Linked DNA regions of Homo sapiens: region 2 is linked to region 1. The links come from fine-mapping of genetic effects on gene expression. A gene starts in region 1. The other region holds a variant in brackets. All regions are shown on one strand. Distances are from middle to middle. Region 1 holds the start of PPP6R1 (protein phosphatase 6 regulatory subunit 1). Region 2 holds the start of TMEM86B (transmembrane protein 86B).

Region 1 (11,196 bases):
TCTCTCCTGCCCCTCCTTCTGGCTACCCAGTTGCTCAGGTGTCCTTCTTAAAATATTAGGTACACACGAGCAAAGGTGCATGTGAATTCTCCTTTTTCTCTATGTTATGCAAAATAAGCCTGCCGTGCTGTGATGGCTGTTCTGCCCCTTGCTTTGTGGGCATTGCATGTCTCGCCTGTGGCTCTTTCATTTTGCAGCTGTACAGTGCGGATGGGCTCTTTTTTGTAGCATGGATATGCAGGTTGTTTCTACACTCTCGCTATGACAAACACTGCTGAAAGAATAACCTTTTGTATATGTTATTACATATGTCTGTAGAACAATTTCTAGAAGGGAAATGGCTGGGGTCAGGTATGTTAAAGGTGAAGGTTAAAGGGTTAAGGGCCGTTTCATTAGCTATCACCAAGCTGCTCTCCATAGAAGTTCAACCATTGACACTCCAGTCATGAGGGTGCCCAACTCCCCAAATCTTGGTCAGGACAAAGTGGCCTCGATGAACCATTTGACCTTTTTTCAAACTGATTGTTGAAAAGTAGTACTCCAGTCCAGTTTACATTTCTCCCATGAGTGAAATTTGGCATCTTTTCTCTTTCTTGTGAACTGTTCGTTCTCATCCTTTGCCCACTTATCTATTTATTGGGTGATGGTTTTTGCGAATGACTTTTTTAAGCTCTTTAAGAGTTAAGTATATTAGCCATTTGTGCTATGAATCACAAATATTTTTCTCCAACCTCGTTTTCTTTTTCTTTTTTTGCCATGGGAGTATTTTTTATATTACGTAGTTTAACCTCTCAGTGCTTTCTTTCATGGTTTCTGGGGTTTGTATCCGCAGAAAGTTTTGAGCAGTGGTCCATATCTGGGAGTTAGAAAGAGCCCAAGAGTGCTGATATGAGGCAGACCAATGGAGTGAGACGAGTCTGGGGGACCCCGGGTTCTAGTTCAAGTAGTTCAGACACCAGTGTGAAGACAGTGAATCATGGATCTGAGCAGTGATTAAAAAAGCCTAACCTCTGGTGGGGGGGAGTGGGTGGTGGCCAGGAGAGAAGAGGAGTCACCTCTGGGTGCCAAGAATGCTGGAGGCAGGGTCCGGCCTCTGCACTCAGGCCCCTTGCTCCCTGCCCCTGCCCAATCCAGGAGGAGCTGGAGTTCTGTGAAAAGCTGCTACAGACCTGTTTCTCCAGCCCAGCGGACGACAGCATGGATCGGTGAAACCAGGTGGCTTCTTGCCCCCTTCTCCGTGGGAACCCCAGGCCTCTTGCCTCCCTCCCCACCTACAAGGCCCTCTCCCAAGGGATCGCAGGGCCTAGGTGCCTGGACCCAGGGTGTGCCAGCCCGTCTCTGTGCAGTCCCTGGAAGGGGCGCTGAGAAAGGCACCAGCTCCTTGGACCCCACCTCCCATGCTCTCACTCTCATCCCCGTTCTCTTGTCCACACAGCTCTTCCAATAAAGGTGTTTCTCTTCCTCCTTCTCCTCCTTCACTGCCGCCTTTGTCATCTCCTTTGGAGGGTGCATGGGGGACGGGAGGAGGGGCACGGGTTTAAGGGACTTGGGGAGCCACTGGAAGAATAATAAAAGTGTTGCTCTTTATCATCTATAGAGCCATTGTGTCATTTACTCTTCCCTGTCTTTCCTGAGCAACAGTGTGTGGGACATCTGTCCTTTTTTCGGCCACCTGGCAAACCTGAATTCTAGGTTTGAGGAATTTCCCAGGTTAGACATCTAAATTTTCCCTAGGGTAGCCGCCATTTCCCTTCCCAGCATCCTTTGCTGTAGGGTAATCATGTGACATTAGCTCCACAAATCAGAACTCTCTCTGGGAATCTGTTTTGTACACCAATCAGAACCCGCTGGTGGTCTAGCTCCTCTACCAATCAGAGCCCGCCGGTCGTCGGGCCAAGAGTTGGCGGTGGAGGGGCCCCTGCCCAGGTTCCCTTCTGGCTAGTGCAGGAGCAGCCACACCTGGCTTCTGGACAGGGCTGGCAGAGATTCTGGCGGGAGTGTCTGAGCCAGGTGCCGTTGATGGAGGCTGCACTGTGTCTCAGGAGCAGGCCTGTGGCTGGGTGTGGGCTTCATTCCTGACTGCAAAGCGCCAAGCGGATTCTGTAGCTTTCTCAGAGACGTGGGATTGGGGCGGGAGGTGGGGGTGTCGGAGGCTGCCTCAATTCCTTTAATAAATTCCTTTTCTGTTTAGCTACAAGAAATTTTGTCATTTGTAGACAAGAGCTTTGAAAGCTGTTGTTTTTCCAGAGAGGAGGCTGAGCTCAGAGGAGGCTGACCCCTGACCAAGTTCACAGCCAGGATTCACAGCTGGACTAATTCCAGAGCGATCCTCCTCTTTCTTTTTCTTTTTCTTTCTTTTTTTTTTCTTTTGAGACGGGAGTCTCACTCTGTTGCCCAGGCTGGAGTGCAGTGGCCCGATCTTGGCTCACTGCAGCCTCCACCCTCCGAGTTCAAGAGATTCTCCTGCCTCAGCCTCCCAAGTAGCTGGGATTACAGGCGCCTGCCACCGCGCCCGGCTAATTTTTGTATTTGTAGTAGAGACCAGGTTTCACCATCTTGGCCAGGCTGGTCTTGAACTCTTGACAGGGTGATCCACCCTCCTCGGCCTCCCAAAGTGCTGGGATTACAGGTGTGAGCCACTATGCCCGGCCAATCCTCCTCTTTCTTGTATCCTGGTTTCCTAGGACAATTTGATGTCAGACTCATTCCTTTTGTGTGGATTGTTCTGGTGGATCTGGGATTTTTGAGTCTATTTGGATTGGTTTTTATCACTCCTCTTCCTAAATCCAGGATAAATTGAGAGGTAGCTGCAGGATCTGAGATCCTGTCTCAAGAAAAAAGTTCCAGTTGTAGTCCCAGCTACTCGGGAGGCTGAGGCGAGAGGATTGCTTGAGCCCAGGAGTTCGAGGCTGCAGTGATCTGTGATCGTGCCATGCACTCCAGCCTGGTCGACAGAGCCAGACCCTGTCTCTTAAAAAAAAGTTTCAATTCTAATGCAAACACAATGTATATCTGTGAGTTCTGCTGGGTGGAAATCCAGACTTCAGTCATTAAAGCCCCCACAGCTTCCCAGCTTCCATTTGAAGGGTAGGGACTATAGCCACATCCTTATCCCTCAGTTCCTGACCTCTGTGTTAAAACAGTGTGGCAATGATGCCATCATATTGTGGAGAAAACAAGGAAGCCAAATGCTGGGTAAAAGACAAAACATCTCTATAGAAAAAAGAGAAAAGGAAATGCCTCTCTGTGATGGTTCATTTCAGGTGTTGACTGGGCTAAGGGATGTCCAGATAGCTGGTAAAACATTATGGGTGTGTCTATGAGGGTATTTCTGGAAGAGACTAGCATTTGAATCGGTAGACTGAATAAAGATCTTCCCTCCCCAGTGTGAGCTGGCATTATCCAATCCATTGAGGGTCTCAATAGAACAAAGAGGGCAAAGGAGGGGTGAATTTGCTCTTTTTTTTTTTTTTTTTTTTTCTCGAGACGGAGTCTCGCTCTGTCACCCAGGCTGGAGTGCAGTGGCCTGATCTGGGCTCACTGCAACATCCACCTCCCGGGTTCAAGTAATTCTCCTGCCTCAGCCTCCTGAGTAGCTGGGATTACAGGCGCACACCGCCACGTCCGGCTATTTTTTGTATTTTAGTAGACACGTGGTTTCACTGTGTTGCCCAGGCTGGTCTCAAACTCCTGAGCTCAGGCAATCCGCCCACCTCGGCCTCCCAAAGTGCTGGGATTATAGGCGTGGGGTCTTGAACTCCTGAGCTCAAGTACAGGCAGGCGTGAGCCACCACGCTGGGCCCTTTGTTTTTGAGACAGGTTCTCGCTCTGTCTCCTAGGATGGAGTGCAGTGGTGCAATCCGGCTCACTGCAGCCTCGGCTCAAGCGATTCTCCTGCCTTAGCCTCCCGAATAGCTGAGACCACAGGCGCGGGCCACCAGGCCCAACTAATTTTTTAAATTTTCTTTTGTAGAGACGGGGGTCTCCCTAGGTTGCCCAGGCTGGTCTCCAACTCCTGGTCTCATGCCATCCTCCGGCCTCGGGCCTCCTAAAGTGTTGTGATTACAAGCGTAAGCCACCGCGCCCGGCCAATTCGGAGTCTTAAAACAAAAACAAAAACAAAAAAGTTCCTCGCGCCCACACGATTTTTACAGTAGGCCTCTAACATGGGTAGAGAGGGGAGCTATTAAAGTTGGGGAAACCGAGGCTCAAAGCCAGAGGGACCTTCATCAATCTAGACACAAGGTCTAGGAGGTCTCTTTCAGTTGATGCTATTAGAAGCTGCTTTGGGCGGAACTGGCAACACCAGCGACCCGGCCGGGACTATCGCCAGCAGACGGAAACGACTGAGGGCCTCTGAGGCTCGGAGGCGGCTAAGCGCGAGAGCCGGACGGAACGAAGGCGCCTGGCTTTGGCTGGAGCGAAAACCAGGTCTGGATTTCGCAAGAGCCCGACCCTGGAGCCAAAGCTCCACTATGATTAGAGGAGACAGAACAGCGAACGGATTTCCAAACGGAGCGAGTGGGAAGGGAAATCCTGGAGCGGAATATTCACGGGGCCTTGGAACGGAGCCGGTGCGCAGCTGCGGCTCACTGAGCTGTCTGGGTTTATTCCGGGGCAGACCGTTGGCACCAACGGGCGCAAGCGCGTCTGCGGCGGCGGGGTTCAAGAGTGGGCGGTGTCGGGAGCGCCCGGGCGCACGCGCACTGCACCGCCCAGGCGTGCACCCCGCCCCCCGCACCTGCGCACCAACACAGCCGCGGGAGGGCGGGGCCTCCTGCGTCGTCCTGCGCTAGGGGGATTGTGGGATAGTGGCGGAGGGAGCCGGGCGTCGGAGGCCCTGAGGCCGGCCGCAGAGCCCGGAGATTGAGCGGCTTTGGGGAAGGGGTGGTTAAGGAAGTAGGCCTCGGCTTCCGTCGGTCGCTGCTCGGCTCTGCGGCCCGTTTGGACCGCGGAGGAGGTCGCCTTCCCCTCCCGTGGGGCGCTCGGTTGGACTGTGGAAACCGGGGCAACTTCCCCCGTCTTCCCGGCTGAGGCGCCTGCGTGGGCCTCGCGACCCGGCTCGCCAACCCGCCTCGGCCCGCACGCCCACCTCGCCTGCGGACCCCGGAGGTGCCTACGCGGACTAGTGACGCCCCCCGCCCGTCGGCAACTCCACCCGGCGCTGACCCCCTCAACTCTGCAGGACCCGGCGCGCGAGGACCCCACGACCCGCGGGCGCCTGCGCGGACCCCGCGAGCCCCGGCGCCTGCGCGAGTCCCCGACGCCGCCCCCGCCCCCACTCACCGGGCCCCGCAGCAGGGGCCGGAGCCGCCGGCGGCGGGGCGGGGGGGGGCGCCCCGATGAGCCCCGAGTGCGAGGAGCCGCCGCCCCCCCTCGCAGGTGAGCGGCCCGCGTCGCCCGACCCTCTCTCTCCAGGGCCAGGCGCCCACGTCTTCCCCTCTCCGCGTCCCCTCAGGCTTTTCCCTCTCGGGACCCCCGCGGGTCTTTTCTGCTTCGGATCCTTTCCCTCCTTCCTTCGGGTTTCCTCTCCACGGCACCCCGTTTCTTCCCCCTCGACCCTCCCCAGTCTCTTAATCTCTTCACCTCAGCTCCGCCGCCACCCTAGTCTCAGTCTCTTGCTCTCGGCCTTTTCCCACTCGCTCTCTGCAGCTGCGCTCCCCAGTCCCTGAGCCTCAGCTCCGCTCTCTTGCCTCTCTGGCCGGTTCCCCGGCCCCCCAGGAGTCTTTCTCCCTGGTTACCCTGGACTTTGCCTGCTTACACCCTTCCCTCTCGCCCCGATCTCTGCCCCGCCACCTCTTCCGTGGCGCAGCCTCCTTAGATCCCCGGAGCTCAGGACTGGAGGAGCGGGGCTTGTTTTCACCTTGACCGACCCTCTCCCGCCTCCGGCTTCTTGTGCGAGGGACCTGGGAGCGGGGCTTCTCTGGAGCAGCCACCACTCGGGCCTGCTTCAGTGAGATGAAGCCTGCTGAGGGCAGGCAGGGAGCCTGGCGCTGGGCACCGAGGAGGGGGCATCAGCCCTAGGCCCTGCCCTGGAGGTGGGGCCGGTCCCTGGAGGGGGTACAAAGGCAGAGCCGGACAGTCACAATTCCTGCGTGTCGTGATCGAGGTGACTTAGGGAGCTGCAGGGGGCCACAGAGCGGGAGGCACTGGTGAGACTGACTGGACGGACGGCTTTTTCTGTCTAGGAAGGATGAGTAGGAGGTGACAGATGGAGAGTGGGAAGAAGGGCCTTCCGGGGGGGGAAGGAGCAGCACGTGCAGATATGTCAAGGAAGGAAGGTCGGAGTCCTGAGTGCAGATGTATTGGGAGGGTGAGGGGCAGAGTAGTTCCGCCCGGCGTGCTTATCCAGGCCTCGAATGGGACCTCTGGTTGGGGTCTTTCTTGCTCGCTCGTAGTACACACAGACATGACCATAGACACCCGCCTGAAAGGCAAGATGTTTCAGGAAAGGAAGCTGCGTAGACTGTCAGGTGCGGTACTGGGTTCACAGTTGTAGAGAAACTGCAGTGGGATTTCATCCAGCCCAAGGGCGAGGGTCTAACTGTTAGCGTGCGCTGCAAATGCAGCAAGGACTCGAGATTGCCTGGATAACACAGGATGAGGACTTGGTTTACATACATGCACAACACACATGGAGACACGGCGCCCGGCCACGTGTGCTTACTAGTGGTGGGATGGCTGTTGGAGCTGCTTGTGCTGTTGAAAATGTTATGCTTTTTTTTTTTTTTTTTTTTTAACTCTAGTTCTGGGATTGGGATCATGAGAAGGCAGTCCAGCTAATTGTTAGAGGATCTTTTGCCAGACAGACCTAGGCCGAGTCCGGCTTCTGCCAAGCGAGACCTTGGACAAGTTGTTCCTCGTCTGTAAGTGGGGATAGCAGACTGCTCTCCTCAGAGGGTGGATCTAGGGATTAAGTGCAGGGTTTGTAGAAGCCTGTGGCAGAATGCAAGGCACATGACACTCTGCAATCAGTAGCTGTTTTGATGTTGATGATTTTGAGACTGGGTTTTGCTCGTTTGCCCAGCCTTGAACTCCTGGACTCAAGTGATTTTCCCACCTTAGCCTCCTAAGTAGCTAGGACTACAGGCACGTCCTGCAATGCTTGCTCAATTTTTGTGTTTTTGTACCACGCTTGGCTAATGTTTGTATTTTTTGTAAAGACTGGGTCTTGCTCTGGTGCCCTGCTGTGGTGCCCAGGCTGATTTCAAACTCGTGGGTTCAAGCAGTCCTCCTACCTAGCCTCCCAGAGAGCTGGGATTATAGGCATGGACCACCACACCTGGCCGTTCTTTCGATTATTATTTGATTTGGGAATGTCCATTGCAGTGGCTCTCAACTGGGGGCGATTGTGTCCCCTGGGGGACGATTGGCGATATCTGGAGATGTTTTTGGTTGTTACAACTGGGGGGAATGCTGCCAGTATCTGGTGAGTGGAGGTGGAGGCTAGGGATGTTGCTAAGTGTCCTCCAGTGCATGGGCAGCCCCAACACCGAAAAGAACCGTCCAGCCCAAATGTTAGCAGCGCAGAGGAGGAGAACTTTGCTCCACTGCTGGGGTATGGTGTGTCGTTGTGGCTTATTTGCTCTGTTGTGACTCATGAGCTGTGAGTTGGTGAGTTGTGTATTGCGAGTCACCACCATCTTTGTGGCCATTAGCTTTTGTTGGTTCATCTACTGTTTCTTTCCATTAGAGGAGAACCTGCTTGTCTGGTCCCCCTGCCCATTTTTTTTCTTTTGTGGGATGTGTGGCCCAGTGCTCTTAACAGAACACCTTTCTCTGGCTTCAGTTTTCATTAATTCAACAAGTAGCTTTAGTTGGGCCTGGCCTTATGCTAGATCCTGGGAAGTCGGCATGTTTCAGGGGGAGGCAGATGACTGAACAGGTACATCCTGTCACAGAGCCGAGGCTCACATGCTGTTCCAGGGTGACTGCGGGATGCTGTGGAAGCGGCGTGGAGCAGGCCTCTAACACAGATGCGGGGGGGAGGCTCCCTGGAGGAAGTGGTGTCTGTGTGGGGGCCTGAAGGACCCAGGAGGAGCTAGTCAGACTCGAAGAGCTCCGGGAAGGAGGAGGGAGCAGCCCAGCCCCGGCTGAGGGCAGTCAGGTGTGACGCCCACGCGGGAGGTAGCAAGAGATGAGGTGAGAGAGGCCTGAGAGCTTTGGTGAGAGTGAGGGGCCTTGCCAGAGTGGGAATCACTCGGCACCCGGCTTGATGGGGCTCACCTGCCTTTCCATGCCAAACCGTGGTTTTCCCTTTGCACACCAGTTTTGTGGGTCCTTCTCCAGAGAGTGCTGCCTTATAGTAACCCCATCTGTGAGGTATTTCCCGGATAAGGAAACTGGGGCTCGGTGGGGTGAGATCCTTGGTCTAGGCCACAGAGATTTCAGTTTGGGGAGGTCAAATGGGAATGCAAGCTTTTCTGACTTTGGATCACACTGTAACCCTAACTCTGCCCCTTTCTGTTTTTCCAAAGAGCTATTTCAAATCCGTTCATTGGTCTTTTCCTTTCTTTCCTTTAAACCTGTGGCCAGTTCAGGAGACGATTTGAATGTGGATGTTCAAGTCCCCGTCCCAGTCCTTGGCCAGTGTTTCTAGACTCTTCTGTTTCCTAGTTATTCCATCCTCTGGGGTTGGACCAGGGCTGCTAGCTCCCTTGGGAGGGTGTGCTTCTGGGGCCAGAGGGGGAGGCACTGAGGGTTCTCTTTAAGTGGGGACCCTCCCCAAGGCTTTCCCAAGCCACAGGAAAGCCCTAGCTCATCATCTTGTTGGGCCTTGGGCCGCTCCCCCTTCTCCTCTGGCCCCAGTGGCCCTTTCTATCAAATTGGTGTCCCTGGTTCCTCCTTGCTGGGTGGGTGATGCCGGATTCTGCAGCCGGCACACACCGTAGGTCCTGCCCAGAGGTGGTGGGGTTGCCATTACTGTCACTGCATCCCTGGAATTGGGTGTTCCCAGCCCCCTTTCAGATTTGGCTGAGAGCTGACAGAGGCTTGGGGGACATTAGAGGGAGATGGTCTTGCTGTCCTCCGGACTCTGGGCCCTTTAAGGAGCTGGGTGCTGGCCAGCCTGCTGCTGGTAGCAGGCTCTTTCCCTTCCTAGGGTACCGGCCAGGGGGCCAGGCGTTGGAGCTTCTGCTGAGCATTGGGACAGCTCAGGCAGCTGTTTCTGGAGGCCCCCTGAGGCATCTGTGCCCATGACCTCCATTTCTGGGTGCTCGTGGGTCAGCGCAGGTTGGGAAGGGGTGACAGATGAAGCATGGGCCCACCGGTTCCCTGGCGGCAGAGCTGTGCTTGGGCGGATACGTGCAGCAGTGGGGATGGCTCTGTGGGAGCCGCAGTTAGTGCCTGTCCAAGCAGGGGAAGGAAGGGGCTGGCAGGCCCTTGAGGGGTGGCTGGTGTTGAAGGCCCTAAAACACCACAGCTAAGTCAGAAACCAGAGGCAATAGTGCAGAGCTGGTGGAGGGAGAGCGGCAGAGGTAGTTTTCGTTTTTAATGGCTTCCTTTCTCATTTACAATTTCCCCTTCTTCCGTTTGCAGCCAGACTCATGGTTTTCAAACGGTAGCTAAAAACTAGTGGTAGTCACTTCCGCTTTCTTGAAGTTGCTAAAAGTTGCAAAGAATGGGGGTGGCGGGGTGCATGGCGCCTGCCGTAGTATCCGAATGGTCTGAGGAAAAGTACTTGAGTCACTTAGGCAAATGGGTAGAGTCTTTCTCCTGCTCCTCTGTGTTTAGCACCATCACCTTTGGGGTAGTGACCGGTCCCCTACCTGTCCTGCCAGAAAGCATCTGGACGTGGCCTCAGGGTTGGACCGGAAGAGACTTGCACCTGCTGAGCTCCTGCTGTGTCACGGCCACCTGCTTTAGCTCAATGCCTTTTCACAGCAGCCCGCCCTGGTGGGCTGTGTCTCCTTTTCACGGATGAGGAAATGAGACTCAGAGAAATCAAGCGCCTGCCCAGGTTCACCAGGAGAGTGCGAGTGAAACCCACTCTCCTGCTCCATTCGCAGGGATTCTAGCAGGCTTCATTAGGTTGGGAGAGGGGACTGAGAGGGCTTCAGGCCATAGTGCATTCAGAGGTTGTGGTGGGGGAAAGTTTTTTTCTCTTTTTTTCTGTTCTTCCATATTTGCATCTTCATTCTGTTTAGAGCCTGATAATTGAGGTCTGTAGAGTGTCGACCACTCAATTGCATTTGAGCCTTTCAGTCTATTCTGATTTTCAGAGGAGCCACTTGAGATGGAGAGTTCAGGGCGCTGCCTGGGTTCTCAGGGCCGAAGTTCTTGGATGCCGTGCACCAGCGAGCACCCTCCCGTCTCATTCTGGCTGCCCCTGCCCCAGTTGTCTGGGGAGCTCGGTTTGGAGGGGAAGCCTGACCTTTTCCCCGAAGCAGATGGTTAGTCTGTACCAGGGGTAGGGGGTTTGGGGGCCGAGGGCCATGCCTGTGCCCTTTAATCAGGTATCTTAGAAGTGAACGGTGGGCCTCAGTGTGAGAATTTCTGCCTGTTGTTTAGAGACCAGGGCACACTGGAAGCCTCTTGCTAGCCATGTGGCTCCACCCCTCTGGGCCCCTCTTCCACATGAGACTCTGTCGGAATAATAAGAATTCTTTACTTGGTCTTGATGTGGAGCCGAGACAAGTGTCTCTGCAAGTGCGGGTCCATGGATTTTCTACAGATGCTGGCTTGGTGCTGCTCCTATCCCGTCCCCACTGTGGAGGGGCTCACTTAGCTTAGAGCTGTTGGTGGTGAGGGATGGGGAAGGGGTAACCTGGGTGAGTGCCCCAGGGCTGAGCCTTGGCAGCTTCAGCTCTGCCAGGCTGGCCGGCATCTCATCAGCTCTGCGGACGCTGGGACATAGTGCAAGGCCTGAGCCTGGCCCTGGCTCTGTCCCTGCCATGGCCGATGGCCTGAGGCAGGTTTTTTTTTTTCCCCCAACAGTTTTTATTGAGATATTCTGTACAGTTCATCCATTTAGAGTGTACAGCCAGGCGCAGTGGCTCACGCCTGTAAGCCCAGCACTTTGGGAGGCCGAGGCAGGCAGATCACTTGAGGTCAGGCATTCAAGACCAGCCTGGCCAACGTGGTGAAACCCCGTCTGTACTAAAAAAATGCAAAAATTAGGCCGGGCGTGGTGATTCATGCCTGTAATCCCAGTGCTTTGGGAGGCCCAGGCAGGCGGATCACAAGGTCAGTAGTTCG
Region 2 (11,196 bases), 32 kb after region 1:
GCCCCAGCTGGACAGCCACCTTTGACCCAGTGCCTACAGATGCCCCGACCAGCCCCCGAGTCTCCGGGGAGGAAGAGCTGCACACTGGGCCTCCAGCCCCACAGGGGCCCCTCAGTGTGCCCCAGGGCCTCCCCACTCAGAGCCTGGCCAGCCCTCCTGCCCGTGACGCCCTGCAGCTCAGGTGAGAACCGGATGGAACGGGCTAAATGGTGCTGGTATCCCGAGGCCAGGAGGTGGCCATGGGGTCCCCGTCCTCTCATAGGCTCGAGTGCTAACCCTAGCTGCCCCCTTGGGCTGCCTCTCTCGCCTACCAGGTCTCAGGACCCCACACCCCCCTCAGCACCTCAGGAAGCCACAGAAGGCAGCAAAGTCACGGAGCCCTCAGGTGAGCCCCGCTTTGCCCTGCCCACCCGCGGCCCTGGGCAGAGAGAGCAGCCTGGCCAGCTCCGAGCTTGCTGGGAGCTGCAGCTGAGATCTCTTATCCCCCACAGCCCCTTGCCAGGCCTTGGTTAGCATCGGGGACCTTCAGGCCACCTTCCACGGGATCCGTTCTGCCCCCAGCTCCTCGGACAGGTGAGCAGCGAGGTGGGGCTGCCTAGTATCGGGAGAAGTCTTTTCTCCTCTTCGCTGAGGTGGGCTCTGGGTTCATCTTGTCCCTGAGCTGCTCCAGGCCTCCTTTGCAGGACCCCCAGGCGCAGCCTCATGTTGTGCCCCAGCCCCTTGCACTCTGTAGGCTGGTTCTTCTCTTAGTAGCCTGGGATGCTTGGGGCCCTTGAGCCCCAGGGTTGGGAAGGGCTCGTTGGAGGGTGTGAAGGATTGGGAGGGTGAGAGCATGCAGAAGACCCTTTGGGGCTGTCTCAGCCGGCCTCGAGTACCTCCTCCACAGGGACAGGAGGCGGGAAGAGGGGTGCTTGTCTTCCTGTCCAGGGCTGTGCTGTCCCTCCACGCTGAGCCAGCTGCGTCCTCGGGAGGCCCCTCCCCGTGGGGCAGGTGGCAGACACACACCCAGTGAGCCGACTTCAGTCGGGTGGGATGTGAGGGTGTCAGCAGGTGACGGTGGGGGCCACGCTGACAGCCGCACCTGCCTCTCACCCACAGTGCAACCAGAGACCCCTCTACCTCTGTCCCAGCCTCCGGGGCCCACCAGCCCCCCCAGACCACAGAAGGGGAGAAGAGCCCAGAGCCCTTGGGGCTTCCCCAAAGCCAGAGGTGAGCACCAGGGCAGCAGGGCGGGGGGGTGGGGGTGGGGCTGGTGGGGCAGGAAGTGACCTCTGCACATCCCCTCTCTCCCCTGACAGTGCCCAGGCCCTCACGCCTCCTCCGATACCCAATGGCTCTGCCCCGGAAGGGCCTGCATCCCCAGGCTCCCAGTGAGTGTGGCTGCAGCCTCGGGCTGGGTAGGTGGGGCTGGGCCTGCTAGACCCTCACACGACATCTCCCTCTGTTTCCAGATAGCTGCCTGGTGCGGCAGCGGCGGCCAAATCTTCCGTCCTCCCGTGGATCTCCCGGGGTGGGGGCAGGGCGGGTCCCACGATGGCCCCCATTGCCCTCATCACCCTGACACCCCCACATTCTCTCCTCTGGACCCCCAGGAGGCTGGTGCCAGGGAGACAGGCCCAACCCACCCCCATTTGCACTGAGAAGAGAAGTTTTGGAGCGTTGCCTCCTAGAATAAAGATACAGAGAGTCAAATAGAGAGAATGGAGAGAGAGAAACATATATTATATATTATATAGAGAGAGGGAGGAGAGCGAGAGAGAGTGAGGACACCGAACTGGGCTGGCGGCTCCAAAGCACAGCCTTCCCTGTTCCGTCCCAGCGGGAGCTGGTGTTAGGGGTCCCAAGGTTGCCACCCACGTGCCCAGCTGTCCCACGCTGCAGCGCAGACGGCCACGCCCACACCCGGCCTTTTAGCTCAGGTCCACCATGGGGGACGGCCCAGCGTGGGTGGGGGTGCCAGAGGGTCCCGAGTGGGGGCCGTGCCTTTGCCCAGACCCTGCACTTTCAACCAGGCCAGTCCGGCTCTGGGGAGCAGGGGCCTCCCCGGCAACAGCCCCAGGGGCCTTGAGGGTCTGAGGTCCCAGCCCTGTTGCCAAGTGACCTTGTCCCCAGCTCCCTCCTCCCAGGCTGGTGTGAGTGTGCGTGCGTTTGTGCCGAGCTTCTATTTCATATTGCAAATATAAATAAAGGAAGGCAGTTTACGATTCTGCTGGTCAGACCTTACGTTCTGGGATGCGGGGTGGGGAGCCTGTATTATCCCTGCACCCCAGAGGCTGGGGGTGCTCCTGACCCAGTCTGCCCCCACACTGTCCTGCCAGAGGGAGCCCTGTGGCTGCAGAGGCCCCAGGCTGGGCCAGGCACTGGCTGTGAGGGCTCCTGCCAGGTCTACCCCACCTGTGGGCAGGGCCTTGGGCAGAGGATAGAAGCCACCGACAGGCTCAAATCCCTGCTCCTGCCCCTGCTTACCCCCAGTAACCAAGCCCAGCATTGAGGCTGGGTACTGGCGCCCAGTAGGTCTGAGTCTTTCAGGTAGAAGGTAGAAGTGTAGGCTGCGTGTGCAGCGAGTGGCACCGGTGAGCGGCGCTGGGAAACCGGAGCGTGTGGACCGGGCCATGAGGACAGCGTCCTCACTGGGGTGGCAGTTGGCTTGGAGGTCACCTGGGGGCTCGCTCAGCTAACAGGAGAGGGTGCTTGTTCCCCGCATTCGTGGTGGTCCCTCCTGGTCACCCATTGAAGCAGTGTTTGTGGTGGAGCCCCTGAGGGCTTGGTGGGGTTGAGCAGAATGAGGAAAGGTTTCATGGAGCAGGGAGGGAGACGGCTAGGGCAGCAAGTGAAGGACAGACTCGCCTTCCCATCCCTCCAGGGGCACTCCTGCCAGCCAGCCCCTCTCCCGCTTCCCATGATGGGGTGGCTGTTGGAATTCTGCACCCCATCTCTTCTGATTGTTGGGGCCCAGGACAAGGGGACAGGCATTTGTGGGCCTAACCTCCCCAGGCAGATAGGAGGAGGAAGCCATGTCCCAGCAGGCTAGGGCAGAGGGACCCCCAGTGCCAACAGTGCTTTATCAGCGGGCGCCAGGCAGGGCCATCCCCAGGGTGAGGACAACATCTCCCTGGGCCCTGTTATCAGTCACAGAGTCCACAGGACGCTCCTTGGGTTAACGTGTAACCATGAGCCCTCCCCTCCACCCCCTGAAGCCACTCGCTCCCAGATTAGGTCGCTCTGGGGCTATCAGGCCAGCATGGACGCTGGCAAAGCGGGGCAGACCCTGAAGACTCACTGCTCAGCCCAGGTGAGAGCCTTCTGAGCTGTGCCTGGGGCTGGGGGGACAGGGCCCTGGAACCCCAGCAGCCGGCGGGTCTGGGAGCTGCTGTCCTTGAGTTGGTTGGGCCCTGGGAAGCTGGGTTCTGGCAGCCTGGTCCCTGAATGGGTCCAGCCTGTACAGCTGGGGTCCCAGGTGGGGGTGGGACAGGAGCCATGAGATCTGAGTCCCAAGAATGGGGGCTGGGCTGGGTTTCGGCTCAGTAGCTCCCCACTCCCCAAAGCGCCCAGATGTCTGCAGGTGGCTGAGCCCCTTCATCCTCTCCTGCTGCGTGTACTTCTGCCTCTGGATTCCCGAGGACCAGCTGTCCTGGTTCGCTGCCCTGGTCAAGTGCCTGCC[C/T]GTCCTCTGCCTGGCTGGGTTCCTGTGGGTCATGTCCCCAAGCGGGGGCTACACCCAGCTCCTCCAGGGAGCCCTTGTGTGCTCGGCTGTGGGGGACGCTTGCCTCATCTGGCCGGCAGCCTTCGTCCCTGGTGAGTGGAAGGTGCTGTGACGCTTTCCAGATGCCCGTGTGAGAGAGGCCCCAGCACTTGGATGGGAGCCTGGGTGCAGAGGGCTCCTGTGAGAGCTCCAGTGGTCAAAGGCACAGTGGGGGGCGCAGCCGTGACCGAGGCAGCTCACGCTCCAGCGAGGGGTGGGGGCAGGCGGTGTTAGGGCAGTAGCTGAGGTGGCGCAGAGGGCAGTGAGGACCTGCTGGAGGTACTGCAGTTTGAAGCAGGGTTGCTGAGGAAGGCCTCACTGAGGAAGTCACATTTGGGCAGAGCTGAAGGGCTGTATGCCTGTGTGGAGGAAGGGCGAGTGTAAAGGCTCCGGGGCAGGGACGTGTCAGGTGCTTGTAGCCCAGCAGGCCAGGGTGGCTGGCGCAGAGTGGCTGGAGAGCTGGAGGCCATGGGGCTTTGGAGGCCAAGGGAAGGTGGGGCCTCCTGGCAGTTCTGAGCAGAGCAAGGATGGACACTGCATGTGGGGAGACCTGCAAGGAGGCTCGGCCAGGGTGGGGCCTGGTGCTCTGGGATGGTCCTTCTCTTAGGCCCTGAGGGGTGACCTCGGGGCCATTCCCAGGATGGGCCTTCCTCACTGGTACCCCACCCCTCTCCCGCCAGGCATGGCCGCCTTTGCCACCGCCCACCTCCTCTACGTCTGGGCCTTCGGCTTCTCTCCCCTGCAGCCCGGCCTGCTGCTGCTCATCATCCTGGCCCCTGGCCCCTACCTCAGCCTTGTGCTCCAGCACCTCGAGCCGGATATGGTCCTGCCGGTGGCAGCCTATGGGCTGATCCTGATGGCCATGCTGTGGCGCGGCCTGGCCCAGGGCGGGAGTGCCGGCTGGGGCGCGCTGCTCTTCACGCTCTCTGATGGCGTGCTGGCCTGGGACACCTTCGCCCAGCCCCTGCCCCATGCCCACCTGGTGATCATGACCACCTACTATGCTGCCCAGCTCCTCATCACACTGTCAGCCCTCAGGAGCCCGGTGCCCAAGACTGACTGACTAGGGAGCTTGAAGGGCCGGTGTTCAGGCCCTCTCCTCCTGCAAGGACCTGGGCCTCCCAGCCCAGCCCAGCCTGAGAAATACCCTCAGCAGCGAAGCTTCCTGACGCCTGTCTGCAGGCGCCGCTGCCGCCGTCGCTTCTGGCTGAAGACGTTTGAGGACGATTTGCGGAATTCCAAGTCCACTACTGGGTTCCAGCTGCCTTCCCCCGGTTCTGACTCCAGATCCCTGGCTCCTCAGCCAGGCCCACATGGAGCCCTCCCAGCCACCAGCCTGCCTCCATGTTCACTGTCGGCCCCACAGCCTGCCCGCCCCCTGCTGCTGCTCTGAATCCGTTTTCCCTGTGGGTGTGGAACCGTAGATGTTGCTGTTACCGTAGGAGAGGCCTCGGGGAGGGTCATGATTGTGATAAACCATCGCGGTTAATGACAGCAGAAGGTTCTTTGTCGCTCCCCATGGACCAGGCCTGGTGCCCAGTGGGACCCTCCATGGCCCTCTGGTGGGGGGATTCGGGGGGATAAAGTGAGGATTGTGCAGAACTGAGCCAAGAGGACTGTTTGGTCTTTGTGTTAGTTTCCTGAGGCTGCTGTCACAAATTACCCCAAGCCAGATGCTTTGAAACAAGATGAATGGACTCTCCTGCAGTTCTGGAGACCCAAAGTCCAAAATCCGGGTGTTTTCCGGCCCATGGTCCCTCTTGAGGCTCCAGGGAAGAATCCGTCCTTGCCCTCTCGGCTTCTGGAGGCTCCCGGGAATCCCTGGCTTCCATCGGCCTGTGGCTGTGTCTCTCCGTCTTCATGTGACTGTCTTCAACTGGCAGCCTCCCTCTGTGTCCGCATCCTTCTAGGGACACAGGTCATTGGATTTAGGGCCCACCCTAAACCCAGGGTGATTCTATCTCAAGATCCTTAAGTATGTCTGCAAAGCCCCTATTTCCAAGTAGTGTCACCTGCAGAGGTATCTGGGGTTAGGACTTGGACATATCTTTCTAGGGGATACAACCCGCTGCAGTCACATGCAGTATCGGGAGAAGGGTGGGAGGCTTGAGGATGAGGGGTCTTGGAGGAGGGAGGGCGGCAAGGGGGTAGGAATCAAATGGGAAGGAGGAACCCAGCTGTGCTCCTTGTCAAGGCTGTGTGACCTCGGCAAGCTGCTATCCCTCAGGTCCTCAGATTCTGCATCTGAAGACTTGACAGGGTCCAAGCTGCTCTCCAAGACCCTATTTGACTTCTGCATCCATGATGTGCTTTCAGTGACTCATAGCAGAGGGGCGACTTCTCCATCCATGGTTAGCATTTAGAGACTCTTACAGCAGAGAGGCGACCTCTCTATCCATGACCTGCATTTAGGGACTCTTAGAGCAGAGGTGACTTCTCCATCCATGACCTGCATTTAGGGACTCTTACGACAGAGAGGGGACTTCTCCATCCATGGCCAGCATTTAGGGACTCTTACAGCAGAGAGGTGACTTCTCCATCCATGACCTGCATTTAGGGACTCAGATGTGAGAGTACAGAGGTGGGAAGGGAAGGTGGGGAGCCTGGAGGACGGGGACCAGGAAGGAAAGTGAGGACAGGAATCCACAGTTGGAGTGAGGAGAAGTGGAAGCTGAGGGATTTCCTTGAGGAAGGGTCAGGCATGAGGAGGATCTGAAGGATTGGACTCAGGTTCGAAACCTCCACTTCCTCCTCATCTCCTACCCTCTCCACTCAGACCTGGCGAAAGGTGGGGAAAGAGGAAATTGCGCAGTGAAGTGTAGCAGGAGGGACGGGGGTCTGGGTGTGCAGATTCCAGGGGCACGTGGGGCCTGCAGACATGAGGGGTTCCTGGAGGTGAGGGAGGAGGGGCTGGAACCTGGACTCCTGGGTCTGAGGGAGGAGGGGCTGGGGCCCTGGACTTCTGAGTCTGAGGGAGGAGGGACTGGGGCCTGGACCCCTGAGTCTGAGGGAGGAGCTGGGGGCCTGGACTCCTGAGTCTGAGGGAGGAGGGGCTGGGCCTGGACTCCTGAGTCTGAGGGAGGAGGGGCTGGGCCTGGACTCCTGAGTCTGAGGGAGGAGGGGCTGGGGGTCTGGACTCCTGGGTCTGAGGGAGGAGGGGCTGGGGGTCTGGACTCCTGAGTCTGAGGGAGGAGGGGCTGGGGACCTGGACTTCTGGGTCTGGGGGAGGAGGGGCTGGGGGCCTGGGTCTGAGGGAGGAGGGGCTGGGGGCCTGGACTCCTGCGTCTGAGGGAGGAGGGGCTGGGGTCTGGACTCCTGAGTCTGAGGGAGGAGGGCCTGGGGGCCCGAACTCCTGGGTCTGGGAGAGGAGGGGCTGGACTCCTGAGTCTGTGGGAGGAGGGGCTGGGGGCCTGGACTCTTGAGTCTGAGGGAGGAGGGGCTGGGCCCATAATCCCTGGTGTTTGGGGAACATTCTGGCTTTTGGTCCCTGGGCTCTGTGGGGTCGGCAGTCCAGAGCGACGGGACGCTGCTCTCCTGTCGGCATCCAGCAGCCCCAGCGTCGTGTCCCTCCTCCCTGATTCTGGTCCCCCGACGACCTTTCATCTGACTTCTCAGAGGTCTGCTTTCTCATGATCTGATTCGTGTTTCTCTAAAGCGGGACTCTCGGAGGTGCTGCGCACATCCCTCTCAGGCTCCTTCCAGCCCTGCCGGGACCCAGACCTGGGGCAAGGGGCAAAACGCCGGCTCCATCTTCCCTCCCAAGCCGGGGTGGCTGGTGGGGATGAGGCGGGGTGGGACTCAGCAGCCTTCATCCCGATCCTGCAGGTCAGACCACCGTGGGTCTGATTCCCCATCTGGGCCCTCCCCAGGCCCTCGGGACCACGACAGAGGCCACAGCAGCAGGTTAGTGACCCCATCAGCCTCCATCCTGCACGTCTAGGAAGGGCCGTGGGATTCCGTCTTCTGTTTGCCGCAGAGGCTTCTACCCATGTCAGCCGCCAAAGCAGACAGAATCGTGAGTGTGGAGGCTCGGACCTCCAGCTCCATCACCCTGAGCTGGGCAGCCCCAAGGGCCCAGACCGGCAGACTTCCATCTACTGGGTCCAGGGGCATGGCCAGCGGGAACACAAGCACGTCACACTGCTGGCTCGTGGTGGAGGGCTTCAGCCTGGGACCCTCTACACCACCTCTGTGTGGGCCAAGAAGAAAGGAGTAGGTGGCCCCAGGGACGTCCTGAGCATGTCTACAGGTAAGAGGGGCCACCTTTCCACTGCCCAGCAACATGTGCGTGTGTGTGCACGTGCACTTGTGTGTGCATGTGTGTTTGCGTGTGTGTGCGCGTGCGTGCGTGTGCACATTTGTAAAAAGTGCCAGGCTGTGCACTTTATTCTCATTAGAGCCACAAACAAACTTTATCAAATGACTCTCTCCTTTCCACATTCCCAAACTAGTCCCTGGCCTGGTCACACCGGCTCAGACCACCAGCTCCCTCACCCTGAGGGCCCCGCAGGCCCAGACTCCAAGACCTGCCCCTACTGGCTCTGCTGGGCCAGTGACTCCTCAGACATCAGGGTGCCTGTGGAGGGCCTGGCTGCAGGGACGCAGTACCCCAGCATGTGGGCCCAGAAGCATGAGGTCAACAGCCCCAGCCAGACGCTCACAGAGGCCACGGGCGAGGGGTGAGAGCACTCTGGGCTTGGGGAGTAGGAGGCCTCAGGAGGCCTCTGGCATCGGCCCCACTGATAGGGTGCATCCTTCCAGAGCAAGCAGGGCTGTGGGAAGGAGGGGATGCTTCCCTTTGCTCTGGAGGCCCAGGGACTATGGGGTGTGGTCTGTGAAGCAGGTTCACTGTGCACTGGTTACCAACTTGCCAGAGTGATGAGACAGAACGCCACACGCAAAAAGTTACATGAAGTGGGCTTGTTTCTCACAGATGGGCAGCAAGGGACAGCAGAATCCCAGGGTCCGTTGTAAGCTGGTCCCCCAAGGCTTAGGAAAGTGGCCTAGGGAGGATAGGGTCACAACTGTGTGTGCCTCACTTGTATGGCAGCTGAGGGACCCCAAAAAGTACCCAGCCCTGGGTTTTCTACTCTGGGGGAAACCTGAGTCACCGGGCTCAAGCATTGAAGGGCATCCTGTTTCTAGGGCAGGCAGGAATGGAGCCCAGGCCGCCTGGCCAGTCCCTCCATATCTCCGGATGTTGCATTCCCAGCACATTCTACTGTTACTCTTGAGAACTACAAGTAAGAGACAACTGGGTCTGTTTAAGGCCACTCAGATAACCTTCCTGCAGGAACCCTGACCCCCTTCCCTTCCTTTCCTTACCCGGCCAGGTCATGGATCTGAGGATACAGGCTCAGACCCTGAGTTCTGTTACACTAAGGTGTATATCCCCCCGGGGCCCAGACCCCCACACCTACACCTACTGGGTCCAGTGGGCAGGGACCACGGCCCCCAGTGGGACCAGAAGTGTGGCAGAGATGGGGTTGTGGTGGAGGCCCTGGAATCTGGGGCTTCATAAACCTTCATTGTGTGGGCTGAAAGGCGAGGTGGCTCATGCCTGAAATCCCTGCACTTTGGGAGGCTGAGGCGGGTGGATCACCTGAGGTCAGGAGCTCGAGACCAGCCTGGCCAATACGATGAAACCCTGTCTCTACCAAAAATACAAGAAAATTACCTGGGCGTGGTGGTGCATGCCTGTAATCCTAGCTACTCAGGAGGCTGAGGCAGGAGAATCACTTGAACCCGGGAGGTGGAGGTTGCAGTGAGTCAGGATCGCACCACTGTGCTCCAGCCTGGGCGACGAGCAAAATTCCATCTCAAAAAATAAATAGTCGGTCACGGTGGCTCACGCCTGTAATCCCAGCACTTTGGGAGGCCAAGGCAGGCAGATCATGAGGTCAGGAGTTCAAAACCAGCCTGGACAACATGGTGAAACCCTGTCTCTACTAAAAATACAAAAATCAGGCATGGTGGCACATGACTGTAATCCCAGCTACTCGGGAGCCTGAGGCAGGAGAATCGCTTGAATTCGGGAAGTGGAGGTTGCAGTGAGCCTAGATCGTGCCATTGCACTCTAGCCTGGGTGACAGAGTGAGACTCTGTCTCAAAATAAATAGCCTGGTGTGGTGGCTCACGCCTGTAATCCCAGCACTTTGGGAGGCCGAGGCAAGCAGATCACCTGAGGTTGGGAGTTCGAGACCAGCCTGACCAACAACATGGAGAAACCCCGTCTCTACTAAAAATACAAAACTAGCCGGGTGTGGTGGTGCATGCCTGTAGAATTGCTTGAACCCAGGAGCCGGAGGTTGTGGTGAGCTGAGATCGCACCATTGCACTCCAGCCTGGGCAACAAGAGCGAAACTCCATCTCAAAAATAAAATTAAAAAAAAATAAATTTTCTGCATCTTAGCAGGTTCTCCTGTCTCCCCTCCAGTTTGTACCTCCCTTCCCCAAGAGTGACCAGTCTCCTGATCTTTATCATCGTAAATTAGTGTAGTCTGTCCTTGAAACTTCTCTAAGTGGAATTATACAGTATGTAGTTATTTGATTCTGGCTTTCTTCACTCAACATTGTGGATGAAATGTGGATCCATGCTGGGTGTTTTTATTTTTATTGCTGTGTACTATTTATCGCATGAATGTATTACAACTTATTGTTTCATCCCTCCCTTCATGAACATTTTATGTTTCTAGTTTTGGGATACTATGAATGAAGCTACCATGAACATTTCTGTCCATGTCTTTTGGAGCACACAGGAAGTTTTTTCCCTCAGATGTCTGCCTAGCAGTGGAATCGCTGAGTGATGGTATACGTACCTTAGGCTTTCGTAGTTACTGACAAACCATTTCTCAAAGCAGCTTACCAGTTTACCATCCTGCCAGCAATGTGAGGAAGCTTCATTTGCCCCATATTCTTGCAGATAGTTGGTTGTTCGTCTTTTCCATTTTAGTTCTTCTGCTGCAGTGTTCTGGTGCTTCCTTGTGGTTTAATTTCCATAATGACTAATGAAGTTGAACACATTCCCATTTGTGTGTATGTGTGTGTGTTTGTGGCCATTTGGATATTCTTGGTAAAGTGTCTCTTCAAGTCCATTGCCCATTAAATGGGTCTTCTGCCTTCCTTAATTTGTAGAAAGTCTTTGAAAATATAAAGGGTACAGCTCTTTTGTCAGATGTTTGTGTCACCAAGTGTCATCATGGCCTAGTTTTAACTCAGGGCTCTGCTAAATCACATGGGATCACAGGTGTAGAAGGGTTTGCTTTCCGAGAGGACTGCAGAGATTTCCCCCACTCCCCTGCTCCAGCCTTCCCTTCTCTCATAGAAACAAATGTAGGGAATCTCTCTTTTCTCCTGCAGAGTCCAGGGTTGCTAGAGGACTGAGAAGGGCTGTGCCATGTTTTCTCCTCAGCGCCGAGAGAGACTGGGTTTTCCCTGAAAATGACAAACTTGTCAGG

Evidence for each region. PIP is the estimated chance that this variant, and not a neighbour inherited with it, causes the effect.
Region 2: its variant is fine-mapped to the expression of PPP6R1 in thyroid (GTEx, PIP 0.95).

What each region holds. Positions count from the first base shown.
Region 1 is chr19:55,252,621-55,263,816 of GRCh38, reverse strand. PPP6R1 (protein phosphatase 6 regulatory subunit 1) reads left to right here and starts at 4,800. Exons shown (of 24, transcript NM_014931.4): 1 at 4,800-5,382. It overlaps HSPBP1 (HSPA (Hsp70) binding protein 1), which reads left to right. Exons shown (of 8, transcript NM_012267.5): 8 at 1,135-1,594. The coding sequence ends at 1,209. RefSeq lists enhancers at 4,163-4,212, 4,293-4,342, 4,373-4,572, 4,578-5,552, 8,660-8,709 and 4 more and silencers at 4,402-4,696, 4,603-4,882, 5,013-5,112, 5,283-5,342, 6,527-6,720.
Region 2 is chr19:55,220,787-55,231,982 of GRCh38, reverse strand. TMEM86B (transmembrane protein 86B) reads left to right here and starts at 3,220. Exons shown (of 3, transcript NM_173804.5): 1 at 3,220-3,292; 2 at 3,546-3,792; 3 at 4,420-5,345. The coding sequence starts at 3,242. The coding sequence ends at 4,802. It overlaps PPP6R1 (protein phosphatase 6 regulatory subunit 1), which reads left to right. Exons shown (of 24, transcript NM_014931.4): 19 at 1-181; 20 at 315-385; 21 at 492-573; 22 at 1,099-1,209; 23 at 1,299-1,370; 24 at 1,452-2,204. The coding sequence ends at 1,455. It overlaps MIR6804 (microRNA 6804), which reads left to right and starts at 1,031; the gene lies at 1,031-1,098. The variant C/T (reference allele first, on the strand shown) is at 3,662.